3 separate regions of the Homo sapiens genome follow, and all the other regions are linked to region 3. The links come from fine-mapping of genetic effects on gene expression. A gene starts in region 3. Each other region holds a variant in brackets. All regions are shown on one strand. Distances are between the middles of the regions.

Region 1 (2,766 bases), 95 kb before region 3:
TGTATGCCAATAAATCGGATATCCTAGTGGAAATGGAAAAATTCCTAGAAACAGAAAATCCACCAAAACTAAATCATGAAGGAATTGAAAATCTGAGGAGACTGATAACGTAGTAAGGAGAATGAATCAGTAACCAAAAATCGTCAATAAAGAAAAGACCTGGACCTGAATAGCTTTACTGGTGAATTCTATCAAACATTTAAAGAAAAGTAACACCAATCCTTTTTAAATTTTTCCAAAAAATTAAACAGGAAACACTTCCTAACTCATTCTATGAGGCCAGCATTATCCTGAAAACAGAACCAGATAAAGATAGTACAAGAAAACTACAGACCAATGTTCCTTATAAATATAGATGTAAAAATCCTCCATAAAATACTAGCAAAACAAATTCAGCAGCATATTAAAGAAATTATACACCATGACTAAGGTGGCATTTATTCCTGGAATCCAAAGATGGTTGAACATACAAAAAAAAAAAAATCAGTCTAATACAGCACAACAGAATGAAGGATAAACACCACATCTTAATTGATGCACAAAAAGCATATCACAAAATTCAACACATTTTCATGACAAAAACACTCAATAAACTAGGAACAGAAGGCTACTATCTCAAAATAATAAAAGCTGTATCTGAAAAATCCCACAGTGAATAATATACTCAATGATGAAAGACAAAATACTTTTCTTTAAGATCAGGAACAAGACAAAGATTAAGATCAGGAACAAAAAGATTAAGATCAGGAACAAGACAAAGATGCCTGTGTTTGCCACTTCGTTTCAACATAGTACTGGAAGTACTAGGCAGAGAAATTAGGAAAAGTGGAGGGAGGGGAGAAGAGGTAAGGGGAGAAGCAAGTGTGTGCGTGTGTGTACACACACACACACACACACACACGAATATTATTCAGCATTAAAAAGGAAGGAAATTCTCACATATGCTATAACACGGATAAAACCTGAGGGCATATCCACGTTAAGTGAGTAAGCCAGTCACAAAAAGGCAAATACTGTACAATTCCACCTACGTGAGGTACTTAAGAGTAGTCAAAATTATAGAGACAGAAAGCAGAATGATGGTTGCAGGGGTTGAGAGTGTGAGGAATGGAGAGAGTTGGTGTTTAATGAGTAGAGTTTCAGTTTTGGAAGATAAAAACAGTTCTGGAGACTCTGTACAACATCATGAATACATTTAATATCACTGAACTATACACTTAAAAATAGTTGAGATACTAAATTTTATGTGTATTTTACAATAAAAAATCGAAAAAGAAATTCAATGGCTGTATCATTTAAATAGAATTGATCTACCTACCCATAAAAAATTGTAGTGCAACATTGTCTACAAGAATGCTGTCCAGGGGGACTGTGCAAAGTTTCCCAAAGTTTGCTGCAAGTTTCACAGTATTTATTTCCTACAGGCAAAAGTGAATATAAGTTAATATTTTATCTAATCATTCATTGTTAAAGATGTGTACATAAATATAAGGAAAAAAATCAAGCTAAAACGGAGTAAAGATGAAGTTTTTCCCTTCTCATGCATGTTGTTTCCCAATAGATATACA[T/C]TGTGTGAATTTAAATTCCTAGTTAAGAGTTGCTTAGCAAATTAAAAATATTAACACATTAAAAATAATAGCATTCAACTGTTTCAATATAAAATAAATAGAAATCACTATATTTTCAATTATTCTCTATCTCTATATATTCCAAATGAAAATGAACATTCCAAAGGCTAAAAGGGTGAAGGAAATGGTTAATATACGCAAGAATTTTAAAAACTCAACATTTTCATGTATAAAGTCTATTTACTACTAGGAAAACAAAATATGCCTAAAGAGTAATTTTGCTCCTAACTCAGTAAAATCTCTAATTATTAGATAAAATGTGTTTTTTTTCCAGACTCTCTAAACAGTGAATTTCAGACATACTTTTCAAAGTCACAGAGCAAGGAAACAACCTACATATGAAAAAAAAAAAGGGAAAAATTGCGTCCAAAATTTAAAGAGCATCTACGTATCAGGCTTTGGGCTAGTTACATTACAGATATTACTTCATTTAATCCGCACAGCAATCCTGTTGGATATGTATCACCACGTCTACTTAACAGACAAGGAAAACGAAGATGAAAAAGGTTGCCTATTAAGTCACAAAGCCGGTAAGTATGACTACATGTTTTCAAATGCTGCTGCCCTTTCCAATAAGAGCCATGATGTTTCCATGAATTATTTATTTTCACTGGCTTCTCTATATTCCCAAATTCATATTTCAGAACCCTCTATTTAAAAAAGAAAGATAGGCAGGTTTACTGTAAATGAAGTAGGCTGCCATATTCAGAGGCAGATACTAAATTAAGCATAGGTGGTAAATAAAGGAAAATGTAGAGAATTAAAAAAAAAAACAAATCCATCTCTATAATTTGTATTTTCCTTCATGTAAGTACTGAATAATAACAGCTAACTGACTTTAGATGTCTGGTAGAGAGCAATCTAGAGGCAGCACATGATTCCTACTAAGTCTCCCTTCTTCAAATTGTATCACCTCTTTCTCCTGCCCAGCAGCGGCTCCACAGATACAGGATGGAAGGAAAATTCGCTGAGGATAAAGGTTTCTAAGATTTCAAGATAAGTAACATGGCTATATAACTGCAAATCCGTGGGGATTCTGAGTTTACTTACAAAGGAAAACACTGTATGATCTGAGCTCATTAAAAAATAAAGCTTGTATTCAAAATGGAATTGACAGGCTTGCAAACAAAATATCTAA
Region 2 (2,766 bases), 260 kb before region 3:
GCAACGCCTCCCATGAAAGATTAATAGGAATGCTATCTTGATTGTAGACAGTATGAGAGTCGGTTGAAGAGGATAATTAACCAAGGTGAAATAACAACAAAAACATTCTGACTCAATAGCCTATAGTCAAAATCCCATACCCACTGGCTTTCTGATGTGTGCTTCAAATACAGTGTTAGTGCCTCACTATTTAAATAGTGACCATGGAATACATGGTGCACCAAAGAGATGCTTACACTAGTGAAAACGAACACTAATGAAATTTTACTGGAGGCCACAGACAACCACAATTATTGATTTTACATGAGATCTACTACTTATTAAAGCCTTTTGCAATTCTTGGACTTCAGAGGTTATCAAGAAACAGACTAAATCTCTCTGAATTGGGTCCTTTCAACAATTCTGATTACACTCACCTGATATTTCATTTTAAATTTCATGTTTATAAACACATTCCCCTCTCATTCTAAGACCAGAGGTCAGACATTAATTGCTCTCCAAGGATGGCTTTGCCCAATTTGGGAACGGGCCAGATTGTTGTGTTAGAAATTTTCCTCAGTCAACAACCTTTTTGAAAAGACCAATTCATAGAAGGCGTGGATACATTTAGAGAAAAACAGCTCTCTAAAGGATGTAAGAAGGGTATAAAAATCACTATAAACTCAACTATGTGTGTAAGAACATTTGCAACTGTACATTTTCCGTAAAATAATTTAATTTTATTATAAGCTCCCATTGGGCCATGCAGGTAGAAAATTTAACTCAGTCATTAAGGTTCCCTGTCCACCAATACCAACATGGGTCTGTGGCGTGCTTCCAAGATTCTATGCAGGTCCAAGATATCTTGAGGGTAGAAGAGGCCCTCTGGTTACACATCATCTATCCACACATTTTCTCACGTCTACAGATTGCTGTGAGGCCATTTTTCCACTGATGTGGGAAATTATTTTCTCATCTCTACCCCTTTCTCCCAGCCTAGAGAAATCTTTCTTTCCTTGGGAAGTAACTATTGTAGTTAAACATAAAGGATAACTCTAAAGAAATAAGGTTGCTTTCTGTATAATTCACACATCATTCTACACATTTAAAAAAAAAATTTACCAGAACATGAAATTGTTTCTAATGCTATAAAAAGGGAACAAGGCATCGAGGTTATGAACACGAACTGTGAGCCAGTCTGCCTGG[G/C]TTTGATATATGACCTTGGGAAATTTATTTTACCTCACTTTCTTCATCTGTAAAATAGAGACAATGCAACTATTTCAAAGGAGCTGTCACGAGGTTTATATGAGATAAACATATAAAGTATTCAAAACAGTACTTAGCATTTAATAAGTATTGTAACTATTGCCATTTTTATTTCTATAATAATATTGAAAATTAAAATATAAAAATGTATACAGGCTGAGCATCCCTAGTCCAAAACTCCAAAATGCTCACAAATCCAAAACTTTCTAAGTACCAACATGACAACATAAGTGGAAAAATTTACACCAAACCTCATGTGATGGGTCTCAGTCAAAATGCAGGCAAAACTTTGCACAAAATTATTTAAAATATTGTACAAAATTACACTCAGGCTATGTATATAAAGTGTTTATGAAACATAAATGAGTTTTGTGTTTAGATTTGGACTCCATCCCCAAGACGTCTCATTATGTACATGCAAATATTTCAACATCCAAAAACTTTTGAAATCCAAAACACTCTGTTCCCAAGCATTTCAGATAAAGAATACTAAGTCTGTATTTTACATTTTTTTGTACATTCAGTAAAGGACCTATTATGAATCATATGCTGAGGCTTCCATGATAAATAAGTTGGGAATGGATTAGCTAGACATGTCAAGATGCTTGGGATAGTTAAGCCCTTTGAAAGAGGTAACACAGGATGCAGTGAAACAAGGGTCATTTAACTATCTTAGAGGATGAGACTGGGTTTTTCAGGCGAAGAACAGAGGAAGTCTCTCTCAAGAAGAGTAGCAGCGTGTAAACTCTGGAAGTAAAAAGAAATACGGCTTATTTGAAAAATTGCTAAGCATAACTAGGAGATCAAGGCAATAGTCTTGCTTTAGAGAGAAATAAAGTTCAAGACAGAAGTAAGGGCCAAATCATCAAAGCCCTGTGTGCGCAGTGGTGTTTGCACTTCATCTTGAAAGCTCGGGGGAGCTATCAAAGAGCAATGTTGAGGATCAGATGAATGCAACAGGCATATGACTATGGAAAACAGAAGAATTGAAAGGATAAGGCTGGGTATGGGAACGATTCTCTGGAGTCCATGGCAGTTATCCTGGTGGGAAAAATAAAACAACTGAAGGATGGATTAAAGTATAGTAGTGGTAATGGAGCTAAAGAAAAGAGGAAAGCCTCAAGAGAGATTAAGGTCAAAAACATGATAAGTCTTATGACTTTGGGGCATGGGAGTGAAGAAGGGATTCATAAACACCCAACATCCTAGGCTGAGCAACTAAGTGGAAGGTAGACAGAGAAGCAAATCTGGAGAAAGTCCTCTGCCTAGAACCTCTCCCTGCAGAGAGCCCGTGACTCTCTTATTTACCTTGCTACAGTCTGGGCTCCAGGCCACCTCTCTGAGAGGGCTTCCTTGACTCTCCCACCTAAAATGCAAATACCGTCATCCTCCATTACCTTGATTAATTAGTGGTATTTTTCTTCAATGCATTCATCTGTTCCTGACAACATACTGTATTGTTTTCTGCTCATCTCGCCCATCAGAACACAAGTTCCATGTAGGTAGGAACAGTGTATTTCT
Region 3 (2,766 bases):
CTGCTAATCACAACACAAACTTATGCTATAACCATAATCTCAATTAACTCCAAGAATGAAAAATCTGTAGAATTTAGAAATATAAAATGAACTTCAAACAACTAAAAATACGTACTGTAGAAGTTACAATCAACCAGTAAGTATTTATCATATGCCAGGCTCTGTGCTTAGATTAAGTACAAACAGCAAAGTATAAAGTTCCTCAAAGTTAGTCACGTTCCAAGGACCTGAAATTTCAGGCAAGTACGTGCTTTACCATCACTTTTCACAAAATAAAAGCCACTCACCTACAAATGTTTGTATTTCCTTTTTGGCCCATGTAGGAATACTTCCCATTGCCCACTAAAACTGTTTCCTATTCAGTTCAGCCCATAAAAATGCCCAATCCGGTCAGTTCCTCACGTCAGGATCCTCACAGTACTTAAAGTGAAAGGCTTCGAAAAAGGTATTTCATCAAATCACAAGGTTCAGTATTTTATGTTCAGTGACACCTACACCTGCAGATACTACAACACATAACTGGGCTAACCTGGGTCAAGTACCTAGTTGCACCGATTTAGTTCTTCCCCTTAAAGTGTTGCTAGTAAAGGCAAACTCTACTTCTTCAAAAAGTCGGCTTTTTGCAATGCCCATTAGGCACTAGAAAAGGGAAATTGATTGGTTCGTCATAGTTGCCCTACTTCCATTTCAGGTCCAAAGAAAAAAACTATTCCATAGGGAGTAACAAGGGGGCCACACGCAAATCAAGGTGGCAGATGCTAAACTGAACTTTGTGATGACCACGATTTAACCGAAAAGGTGATGGATGTGGGGGAGGGGGATGACCCAACTGAGCCATACATGTGCAGCTTGAGATAAAAAAGTCCACTTCATGAAGCAGTCAAAGTAGAGGGTGGGAAACAAACCGGTCGGGCCGAGCAACAACCCCAGGGTGCTGACCGAGCTCGGAGGCGGAGGGCCCTGGAGCCCAGGGACCAGAGAAAGGAGACCTAGGGCAAACCATAGGATCACAAGAACCAGCAGTAACGTGGAAAGGCCAACGCTGCCACAGAGTAGCGTGTAAGGGGACACGAAGAAGGGAGCGATGAGTTAGAAGGGAGTGACAGCAGGAGGGAGACCAGTGCCAGGGGCGAGTGGCAAGTGGCAACTGCGAAAGGCGAGGCACTGGCAGCCGGAGGTGGTGGGACTCTGTTGAGTCAGCACAGCTCCTACTCTGAGGGCACTTGTAGGATCCCCGCTGCTCCTCGGGCCCTGGAGCCCACGGCGAAGGGTCAGGCCCACCTTCCGTACAGATGATGTTCTCTGACGGGCTGGCGCCGGCCCCTTCCCCATTTCACAGGTAAACACTGGCCACCGTCGCCGCTTACCTCAGTTAACATTATTACACCCCGGGGAAGTGAGGTCCTCCCTAGCCTCGCCTCATGGCAACAGCCGTAGCAGCAGCGAAAACTGCTCGGGCCGCCGCCAACGGCGGCAACTGCTCCTTCAGTCTTCTCCCGGGCGGCGGTTTTACTCGGCTTCGCTGGCCTCCCCTCGGCCCGGTCGCTCGCGACGGACGCGCCGCCATCTTGGAAGAGCGACGTCCGCGTCTCGCTGCAACGTGCGTTCCCATTGGCGGGCGCAGGGGCTGCTGGCGTCTCGTGACCGTCTCCATAGCGCCGGCGCGCGGAGAAGCGGAGGTAGGCTGTCGGCAGTCGGCTTGGCGCTGACTTGTAGGACCCCGGGACCGGGCGCCTGGGCCAACTTGGGACCGCTGGGAGTGCAGAGGGGCCCCAGCGCCCGAGCCTTCCGGGAATGGACGTGCGCGCCCTTGGGGCCGGCGCATCATCCACCGCCCACTAGCGTTGGCCCGCCCTGGGGAGAGGAGAAAATGCCAGAGGCCGACACTTGACTGATGGCGCTGCGGACCTCGCTGGTCTTGGGGACAAGGCGGCAGATTTCCTTTAGAAAAACTTCCCTCTCGCGTCTCCCTGGCCCCGCGGCGACCGAAGAGTTGGGGTTCGGCTTTCTTCTCCTGGGATTTAAGTGTTATTTGAAACAGCTCCCTGCGCGGCCCTTTTCTCCTAAACTTTGACAGAAACTTCCCTTTGTCCCTACCAATCCTCAGTGAGTTCTTTACAGGGGTCCGAGACAGGTTGTAGATATGATGCGGCTTATCGGCTTTACCCCGATCCTAGCGGAGTTAGGACTTGCTGATGTAATTGGCCAGCACCTGCCTAACAATGAAGGTTTAGTTATGCTACAAGTAATGCACCTCTAAAAAAACGTAAAACAGGCTTTACGTTTTACCTGCTATCTCCACAGGTTTACTAGCTGCTTAATACAATATGCTTGTATATCAAGGTGAGCAAATTTCAGCAAATGTCATTGTAAATAGTCCCAACTTAAATGGAATTGAACTCTGGAACTCAATGTGCATAGAAGTCCCTGAGACTGACGCCATTCTAGATCTACCACTAGATGGTTTGCGATGTACGGAATTAAAGGCAGTCACTTCTACCTGAATTGTGATGAAAGTAGTTTACCTGAACATGCTGGGAAAGTGTGCTACCCTGTTTTGTATTAGAAACCAGTTTCCAAGTAAATTGAAAAGCAAATTTTCAGACTTGACATTAAAAACACCTCCATGTCATTCTTACAAGAGGTACAAAAGCATTTTAGAAAACTAAAGCCAGGAGTTTCTTCCCTTTTACCAGAATCTTTTCCCTCCATTTAACAATAGTACTGTTGTGCTAAATGAAATTTACTTAATGTATTACTCTTACA

Which allele goes with the higher level. Alleles are on the strand shown, and positions count from the first base shown. SD is a standard deviation of normalised expression in the study named.
For the expression in atrial appendage of the gene that starts at base 1,578 in region 3, T is the low allele of the variant in region 1 and C is the other (small effect, 0.31 SD a copy in GTEx).
For the expression in fibroblasts of the gene that starts at base 1,578 in region 3, allele G in region 2 goes with a lower level than allele C (small effect, 0.20 SD a copy in GTEx).

The links. PIP is the estimated chance that this variant, and not a neighbour inherited with it, causes the effect.
Region 1: its variant is the best candidate, but not a certain one, in a credible set for the expression of SNX13 in atrial appendage (GTEx, PIP 0.75).
Region 2: its variant is the best candidate, but not a certain one, in a credible set for the expression of SNX13 in fibroblasts (GTEx, PIP 0.75).

The regions. Positions count from the first base shown.
Region 1 is chr7:17,844,277-17,847,042 of GRCh38, forward strand. It overlaps SNX13 (sorting nexin 13), which reads right to left. Exons shown (of 26, transcript NM_015132.5): 12 at 1,319-1,418. Among named protein-coding and RNA genes, the nearest start is that of SNX13, 95 kb to the right of the region's middle. The variant T/C (reference allele first, on the strand shown) is at 1,569.
Region 2 is chr7:17,675,834-17,678,599 of GRCh38, forward strand. No RefSeq gene overlaps it. Among named protein-coding and RNA genes, the nearest start is that of LINC02889, 120 kb to the left of the region's middle. The variant G/C (reference allele first, on the strand shown) is at 1,186.
Region 3 is chr7:17,938,917-17,941,682 of GRCh38, forward strand. SNX13 (sorting nexin 13) reads right to left here and starts at 1,578. Exons shown (of 26, transcript NM_015132.5): 1 at 1,368-1,578. The coding sequence starts at 1,379.